2 linked regions of the Homo sapiens genome follow. The protein of the gene in region 1 purifies or fractionates together with the protein of each later gene. This does not show direct contact. Each region holds a gene or a part of one and is shown on either strand. Other genes may lie near its edges. The genes, in order: ZNF337 and SMARCAD1.

Evidence for each region.
Region 2: the proteins of ZNF337 (region 1) and SMARCAD1 purify together in Homo sapiens (co-immunoprecipitation; one large-scale study listed by IntAct). This does not show direct contact.

What each region holds. Positions count from the first base shown.
Region 1 is NC_000020.11:25,683,127-25,686,950, reverse strand, and holds part of ZNF337 (zinc finger protein 337), read left to right. Parts: exon of another isoform or gene 1-484; 5' UTR 485-533; coding exon 534-560; intron 561-828; coding exon 829-955; intron 956-1,288; coding exon 1,289-1,384; intron 1,385-3,824. UniProt on the Homo sapiens protein: May be involved in transcriptional regulation.
Region 2 is NC_000004.12:94,277,183-94,281,006, forward strand, and holds part of SMARCAD1 (SWI/SNF-related matrix-associated actin-dependent regulator of chromatin subfamily A containing DEAD/H box 1), read left to right. Parts: intron 1-1,239; coding exon 1,240-1,335; intron 1,336-1,433; coding exon 1,434-1,551; exon of another isoform or gene 1,552-1,740; coding exon of another isoform or gene 1,741-1,746; coding exon 1,747-1,868; intron 1,869-3,409; coding exon 3,410-3,598; intron 3,599-3,824. UniProt on the Homo sapiens protein: DNA helicase that possesses intrinsic ATP-dependent nucleosome-remodeling activity and is both required for DNA repair and heterochromatin organization.

The sequences.
Region 1 (3,824 bases):
CCCATGCTATTAATTTGTTAAAGGCTTTGGTGTTGTACAGTACTGAATAACTGCCAATGCCATCTGCCTGTGGCCTTCTCAAGTTTGTCTGCACCTGTGGTTATCCTGACTTCAAACCCGGGGAGACAGAGGCTAGAAGAGGCAGACAGCTCTTGTGTATTCTGTCCAGTGCAAAGAACACCTGGAACTCTGAGCCCTAACCTTAAATGCAAGACCTCATCTGCAGGTGTTCCTCATCCTTTTAGCCCCTCAGTGATGTAAGCAACAAACGTCACCCAGCTCCTGGGGCACACTTCACTCCCAGATGAGCTTGTCCTGGATTTGCAGGGAGCCTGGCTCCCTAGACCTTTTGGCCAGATCCCCACAGGGGAATTGTGCAGGTGCGCCCTCCCCAGATCCCCAGTTGGTATTGGAATCACACCAACTGTCACACATGGGGAGGGCAGCTGCACCCAGCCACCCTCTGACTTCTCTCCTCCCACAGATTGGCCATCTGCAAGCTTCCCTTCTCCGTGGAGAGCAGGAAGACAGTCATGGGACCTCAGGGAGCCAGGAGACAGGTGAGACTTCCCAGAACTGTCGTTCTTGCTGTCACAGGATGGGCCCATTTCCTTCACTGGCCCTAGCAGTTACATTATTAGCACAGGACCAAGGCCAGCACCGCTCCTGGGGAGTGATCTGTCTTTCCTGGCGTCCTCCAGCAGGTGACTGGCCTGTGGGTGTCACTCATCAAGTAGTGATCTGTGTACAGATGGCAGAACCTGGAATCCTCCAACTGCGTGAGTGCAACACTGTCCCTGGTGAGCATGCCTGGGTTTTGTGTTACAGGCTTTCTTGGCATTTGGGGATGTCACTGTGGATTTCACCCAGAAGGAATGGAGGCTGCTGAGCCCTGCTCAGAGGGCCCTGTACAGGGAGGTGACACTGGAGAACTACAGCCACCTGGTCTCACTAGGTAAGCGTGGCTTCCCTCGAGCCTAACATTTGGCCTGTGGTGCCTCTGATGTTGCCATAGGGTTAGGTTCAGAGACAAGAATGTTGTTTTCTCTATTCCCCTGAGGAAGGTCTGGCTTTGGTAAAGTTTCATACTGACTGCCACTGGGCACCTGCAGGCCTTTCCCCACACTGGGGCTCCCCCTGGGGGTTTGTACTCTGAGCATGGTAGACAGGGTCCTCCTGAGCCTTCCCCCTCTGATTCTCCCTCCCTTCCTGCCCTGGGTGGCTCCAGCAAATGGCCCGTGGAGCCTACAACCAGGAGTCACCTCATGGTTTTTTTCCCTGTGAGCAGGAATTCTCCATTCTAAACCAGAACTCATCAGGCGGCTAGAGCAAGGGGAAGTGCCCTGGGGAGAAGAGAGAAGACGCCGGCCAGGCCCCTGTGCAGGTGAGGGGATAGACAGGGCAGACAGAGCACAAGGCACTCCGCCTTTCAGGAGGGAGGAGGCTTCTCTGAGGCCAGGGGACCTGGAAGCTGTTCTGGCCTCCTTGGCTGCTCTTCAGACCACCTGGCCCTGCCTTCCTTCCAGTCCTTGCTGAGTGAGAGGTTCTCCTGAGGTCCCTGGACTCCTTCTCCCAGGAAGCCTCCTTTCCCCCTACTTGCTAGACTTCTTTCTCCCACTCAATCTCCTCATTTGTGACTTTCCTCGTGACTGCCCGACTGCAAGCCTAAGTCTATTGCCCCTTCCTGATACTGTCCAGGTATTCCTATTTTAGCTTCTTTTTGTTTTGTTTTGTTTTGTTTTTTAATTATTTTTCTGTGTAAGTAAATATAAATTTTTTGATACAATTTGCATCTCATTCTTCTATATACTGATTTTCTTTTTTTTTTTTAATTTAAGTTCTGGGGTATATGTGCACAACATGCAGGTTTGTTACATAGGTATACATGTGCCATGTTGGTTTGCTACATCCATCAACTCGTCATTTACATTAGGTGTTTCTCCTAATGCTATCCTCTCCCCTGCCCCCTACCCCCCAACATGCCCCAGTGTGTGATGTTCCCCTCCCTGTGTCCATGTGTTTTCATGGTTCAACTCCCACTTATGAGTGAGAACATATAGTGTTTGATTTTTCTCTTCTTGTGTTACTCTGCTGAGAATGATGGTTTCCAGTTTCATCCATGATCCTGCAAAGGACATGAACTCATCCTTTTTTATGGCCACATAGTATTCTATGGTATATATGTGCCACATTTTCTTTATCCAGTCTATCATTGATGGGCATTTGGGTTGGTTCCAAGACTTTGCTATTGTGAAAAGTGCTGCAGTAAACATACCTCTGCATGTGTCTTTATAGTAGAATGATTTATAATCCTTCGGGTATATACCCAGTAATGGCATTGCCGGGTCAAATGGTATTTCTAGTTCTAGATCCTTGAGGAATCGCCACACTGTCTTCCACAATGGTTGAACTAATTTACACTCCCACCAACAGAGGAAAAGCATTCCTATTTCTCCACATCCTCTCAAGCATCTGTTGTTTCCTGACTTTTTAATGATCGCCATTCTAACTGGCGTGAGATGGTATCTCATTGTGGTTTTGATTTGCATTTCTCTTTTTTTAATTTTTTTTAATATTTTTTATTTATTTGTATTATTATTATACTTTAAGTTTTAGGGTACATGTGCACAATGTGCAGGTTAGTTACATATGTATACATGTGCCATGCTGGTGTGCTGCACCCATTAACTCGTCATTTAGCATTAGGTATATCTCCTAGTGCTATCCCTCCCCCCTCCCCCCACCCCACAACAGTCCCCAGAGTGTGATGTTCCCCTTCCTGTGTCCATGTGTTCTCATTGTTCAATTCCCATCTATGAGTGAGAACATGCGGTGTTTGGTTATTTGTCCTTGAGATAGTTTGCTGAGAATGATGGTTTCCAACTTCATCCATGTCCCTGTAAAGGACATGAACCCATCATTTTTTACGGCTGCATAGTATTCCATGGTGTATATGTGCCACATTTTCTTAATCCAGTCTATCATTGTTGGACATTTGGGTTGGTTCCAAGTCTTTGCTATTGTGTATAGTGCTGCAATAAACATACGTGTGCATGTGTCTTTATAGCAGCATGATTTATATTCCTTTGGGTATATACCTGGTAATGGGATGGCTGAGTCAAATGGTATTTCTAGTTCTAGATCCCTGAGGAATCGCCACACTGACTTCCACAATGGTTGAACTAGTTTACAGTCCCACCAACAGTGTAAAAGTGTTCCTATTTCTCCACATCCTCTCCAGCACCTGTTGTTTCCTTTTTAATGATTGCCATTCTAACTGGTATGAGATGGTATCTCATTGTGGTTTTGATTTGCATTTCTCTGATGGCCAGTGATGATGAGCATTTTTTCTAAGTTTGTTGGCTGCATAAATGTCTTCTTTTGAGGAGTGTCTGTTCATATCCTTTGCCCATTTTTTGATGGGGTTTTTTTTTTTCTTGTAAATTTGTTTAAGTTCTATTTTAGCTTCTTAAAACCTCTGTCCGTTATTCTCCTTCTTCAATTCCCATAGCTTTTTTTCCTTGTCGTTTAATGTTTTAAGCAGTACTACTGTTGCCAGAGGTCACTTCACCTTCCTCCTTCCCCCATTTCCCCCAGATGTACTGCCTGAGTGGGGCTGTGGTCTAGAATTGTGCACCCTCTTAAGTCCCTGTAGTCACCGCAGTGGTTCATCAGGACTCATGATGATGATGATGATGATGATGATGATGATGATGATGATTCTTACCTCTAGGGTGGACTTGTTCTCTCTTGGAGCAGTTTTAGTTCACAGTTAGGCCCTGTGTTCCTCTCTTCTCTTTTCATGCTGTTTTACTGGCTTTCCT
Region 2 (3,824 bases), on another chromosome or scaffold:
CCCAAATATGTTATTTGTGTTTTATCTGGGCCATTCTTCTGTTAGGTCTCTTTTGTTGTTTTCATAGTGCATATGCTCTATGAAGTAACTTTAAGTAGGTGATAACTCTATATTTGGATTGGTTTGGAAACCAGCCAAAATATAATGGGAAAGAAAATAGCAATTTCCCTAATCAATGGCCAGAAGTCTTGGTTAATATCCTAATTTTCTGAAGGATGACGATTTTAAATTGATGAAGAGCTCAGATATATAGTATGTGCGGAAAGTTTGATCATTACATCATCTGTATCAAAATTGGCTACGTAAATTAGTAACATTTCTTTATGGGTAAACTATAAAACTAGACAAAGCTAGAATATCCAGAAAATGCCTATGCTGAGAAATATATTCTGAAATAAAAGTTCATAAAACCAAAGTCACAACTAAAAGCGACAGTAAAGAAATCCTCTTCACAAGAAAAGTTTTGTTACTTCTTTATTGTTTAGGAAAAGTATAGTCTTCAAGAACTCCCAGTTTTTTCAATACCGCAGTGTTTACACTGATTCTTGGCTCTCTTCCACATCACTAATCTTTTGCAAGAATTTTCTGTGATACTCGTCCACTGCAAATTAACTGCCTTTTAAACATTTACTAATTTGAATTCCCTCCCACTTAATGTACAGTGTTTTAAATGGCCTAGCAGATTTTATGAACCATTTTCTATCTTCAGTTCATAATATATGGAGGACTCCTTCACATCCTAGAATAAAATTCTACTTCTTAATTCTCCAGAGTCACCAGTTCTGACTAAGCACTATTCCCCATTTTTAGACCAAGTGATTTGCATCAGTCTGCACTAGCTTCCTTTTGGGGCCATTTTCCACAAAGAAATAAAGGATTTTCTACCCCCCACGCTCCTCCTTACCCACACTTAGACACATTTTTCAATGAGAGTTATCTAGGTAATCGATACATGACTCATCAGTTGATGACTTCTGAACACCCATCTGGTACAGTTCAAATTGATTACTTCAGTAGAGAACATGATTACGTATCATAAAACTTCAAAATACATATGGAGCTTCAAGAAGTACATGGCAGCCCAGAATTCAGATGTGAAGTGCCATCTAGAATGAATCAAGTTTCTGCAGAAAATAACTCAGACTCTAATGAGGGAGATTTTTATGTTGTGTAATAATACTGTTATTGCAATAATTTAAGTGAATAATTCCTAAAAGGATATGTTTTTATTTTGCTCAGAAATCAGCAGATGAGCAAAGCATATATGAAAAGGAGAGAATAGCACATGCAAAACAAATTATAAAGCCATTTATTCTCAGAAGAGTAAAAGAAGAGGTAATGCATATCTACATGTTTTTTATTTTTATTGTTTTTAAAACTTAGGTTTTTCTCTTTACTAGAATGATTATCTTAAACTGTTTTTTCTGTCTCAGGTTCTCAAGCAGTTACCCCCCAAGAAAGATCGAATTGAGTTGTGTGCAATGTCGGAGAAGCAGGAGCAACTCTATTTGGGTCTTTTCAACAGATTGAAAAAATCTATCAATAACTTGGGTATAATCTGATTTTTACTCTTTTATGTGAAAAAGAATCTTGTACTGGGGATGCATTTTGTTTAGTCATATAATGGGATTTGTGCATTTTAAAAAATTATCTGGAATTTGAGGAAATAATTTTAAAACTTAGTTGATATATTTCAACAGTTATCCGCTTGGTTTTATTTTTTACTGTGTTCTCTTTGAGTCACAGAAAAAAACACAGAAATGTGCAATGTCATGATGCAGTTGAGGAAAATGGCCAATCATCCTTTATTACATCGCCAATATTACACAGCTGAAAAACTCAAGGAAATGTCTCAGCTTATGCTAAAGGTAAGGATTTCATATTATGTTAACACTAAGCTTTAATAAGAGGTTAAGTTGTTAGGCTATAAGATTGGTGAACCCAATGGGCATACTAAACCTTTAACTACATATTTAAGAAAAACTTTTTTTTTTCAGACCAGGTCTGGTTCTGTTGCCAAGGCAGGCAGTCTGGGCTCACTGCAACTTCTGCCTCCTAGGCTTAAGCCATCCTCCTGCGTTGGCCTGCTGAATAGCTGGGACTACAGGCACGCACCACCATGCCCGGCTAATTTTTTTGTACGGATGGGGTTTTGCCATGTTGCCCAGGCTGGTCTTGAACTCCTGAGCTCAAGCGATTCGCCCGCCTTGGCCTCCCAAAGTGCTGGAATTACAGGCATCAGTCACTGCACTGAAACACGAAAAACACATTTTAGACTAAGTTCAAAATGATCTGGGGGACATAAAAACAAAGAAGGACTGATAACCTACATTATAAGTCAGCAAACTATGGCCTTACGGCAGTGACTATTTTTATAAATAAGGTTTTACTATAACACAGTCATGCCTGTTTTTGTTTTCTGGGACTGCTTTCTCACTACAGGGGCAGAGTTGAGTACTTGCCTTACAGGTCATTTTGCCTACAAAGCCTAAAATATGATCTGGCCCTTTACAGGAACAGTTTGCTAACTCCTAGTCTAGACTTCCATAATGCACTTCTTTTTCATTTTATTTCTTTATAATTTTAGCAATTACTCTTTATTTTTGCCTCTTTCTCCTTTAACATTTTAACCTTATTTATCCTTACTGATCTTTGGTTGAAAGCAACCCATTTTCTTCCTTTTCTTTACTTTTTTTTTTGAGATAGACTTTTGCTCTTGTCGCCCAGGCTGGAGTGCGATGGCATGATCTCTGCTCACTGCACCCTCCGCCTCCCAGGTTCAAGTGATTGTCCTGCCTCAGCATCCTGAGTAGCTGGGATTACAGGCACCTACCACTACGCCCAGCTAATTTTTGTATTTTTAGTAGAGATGGGGTTTCACCACGTTGGCCAGGCTGGTCTCGAACTCCTGACCTTAGGTGATTTACCCACCTCGGCTTCCCAAAGTGCTGGGATTATAGGCGTGAGCCACTGCACCTGACCAACCCATTTCTTTTTAAATTTTTTTTTATTATTTTAAACTTATGGAGAATTTCAAACATTTATAAAAGTAGAATTGCATAATGAAACTGCCCATATGTTACTTCACCCCTTTGAAAGTTACCATTTGATAATAACACCACCCTTGTTTCATCTATACCCCAGACTTCTCCCCAGGGTTATTTTGAACCAAGTTCTAGATGTTATTTCATCTGTAAATATTTTAGTATGTTATCTCTCAAACAGTAAGGACTTCTCCCCCTTTATTATACCTAAAAGATTAATACTAATTTTCCTTGATAAGTCTGTTACACTAAAAGGTTCTATGATTTAGATATTTTATCAGGTATAAACAGTTTTATTAAACTTTTCTCATCATATTATTAATTATTTTTATTTTGAAGTATACTGTGTTTTGTTTTGTTTTAAGGAACCTACACATTGTGAGGCTAACCCTGACCTGATCTTTGAAGATATGGAAGTTATGACAGACTTCGAACTACATGTACTTTGTAAACAGTACCGACACATTAATAACTTTCAGTTAGACATGGACTTGATTTTAGATTCTGGAAAATTTCGAGTTTTAGGATGCATCTTGTCTGAATTGAAACAGAAGGTATTAAAAAAGAATGGCGTTTCTTTTGTATTTTCTCAATTACTTTAACTTCTTAAAGCAATTCTGGCACACTGACTTGCTTGAATTAGCCTATGTCTGTTCTGCATTCTTCCAGAACTTAGTGTTTTGAACATTTTCTTGACGTATTTTCTTGATTACCTCCTTTCCTCTGTTGAACCTCAGACAAAAACAATAGAAAGTTAGTAGACTGTATCTGTATTGATGT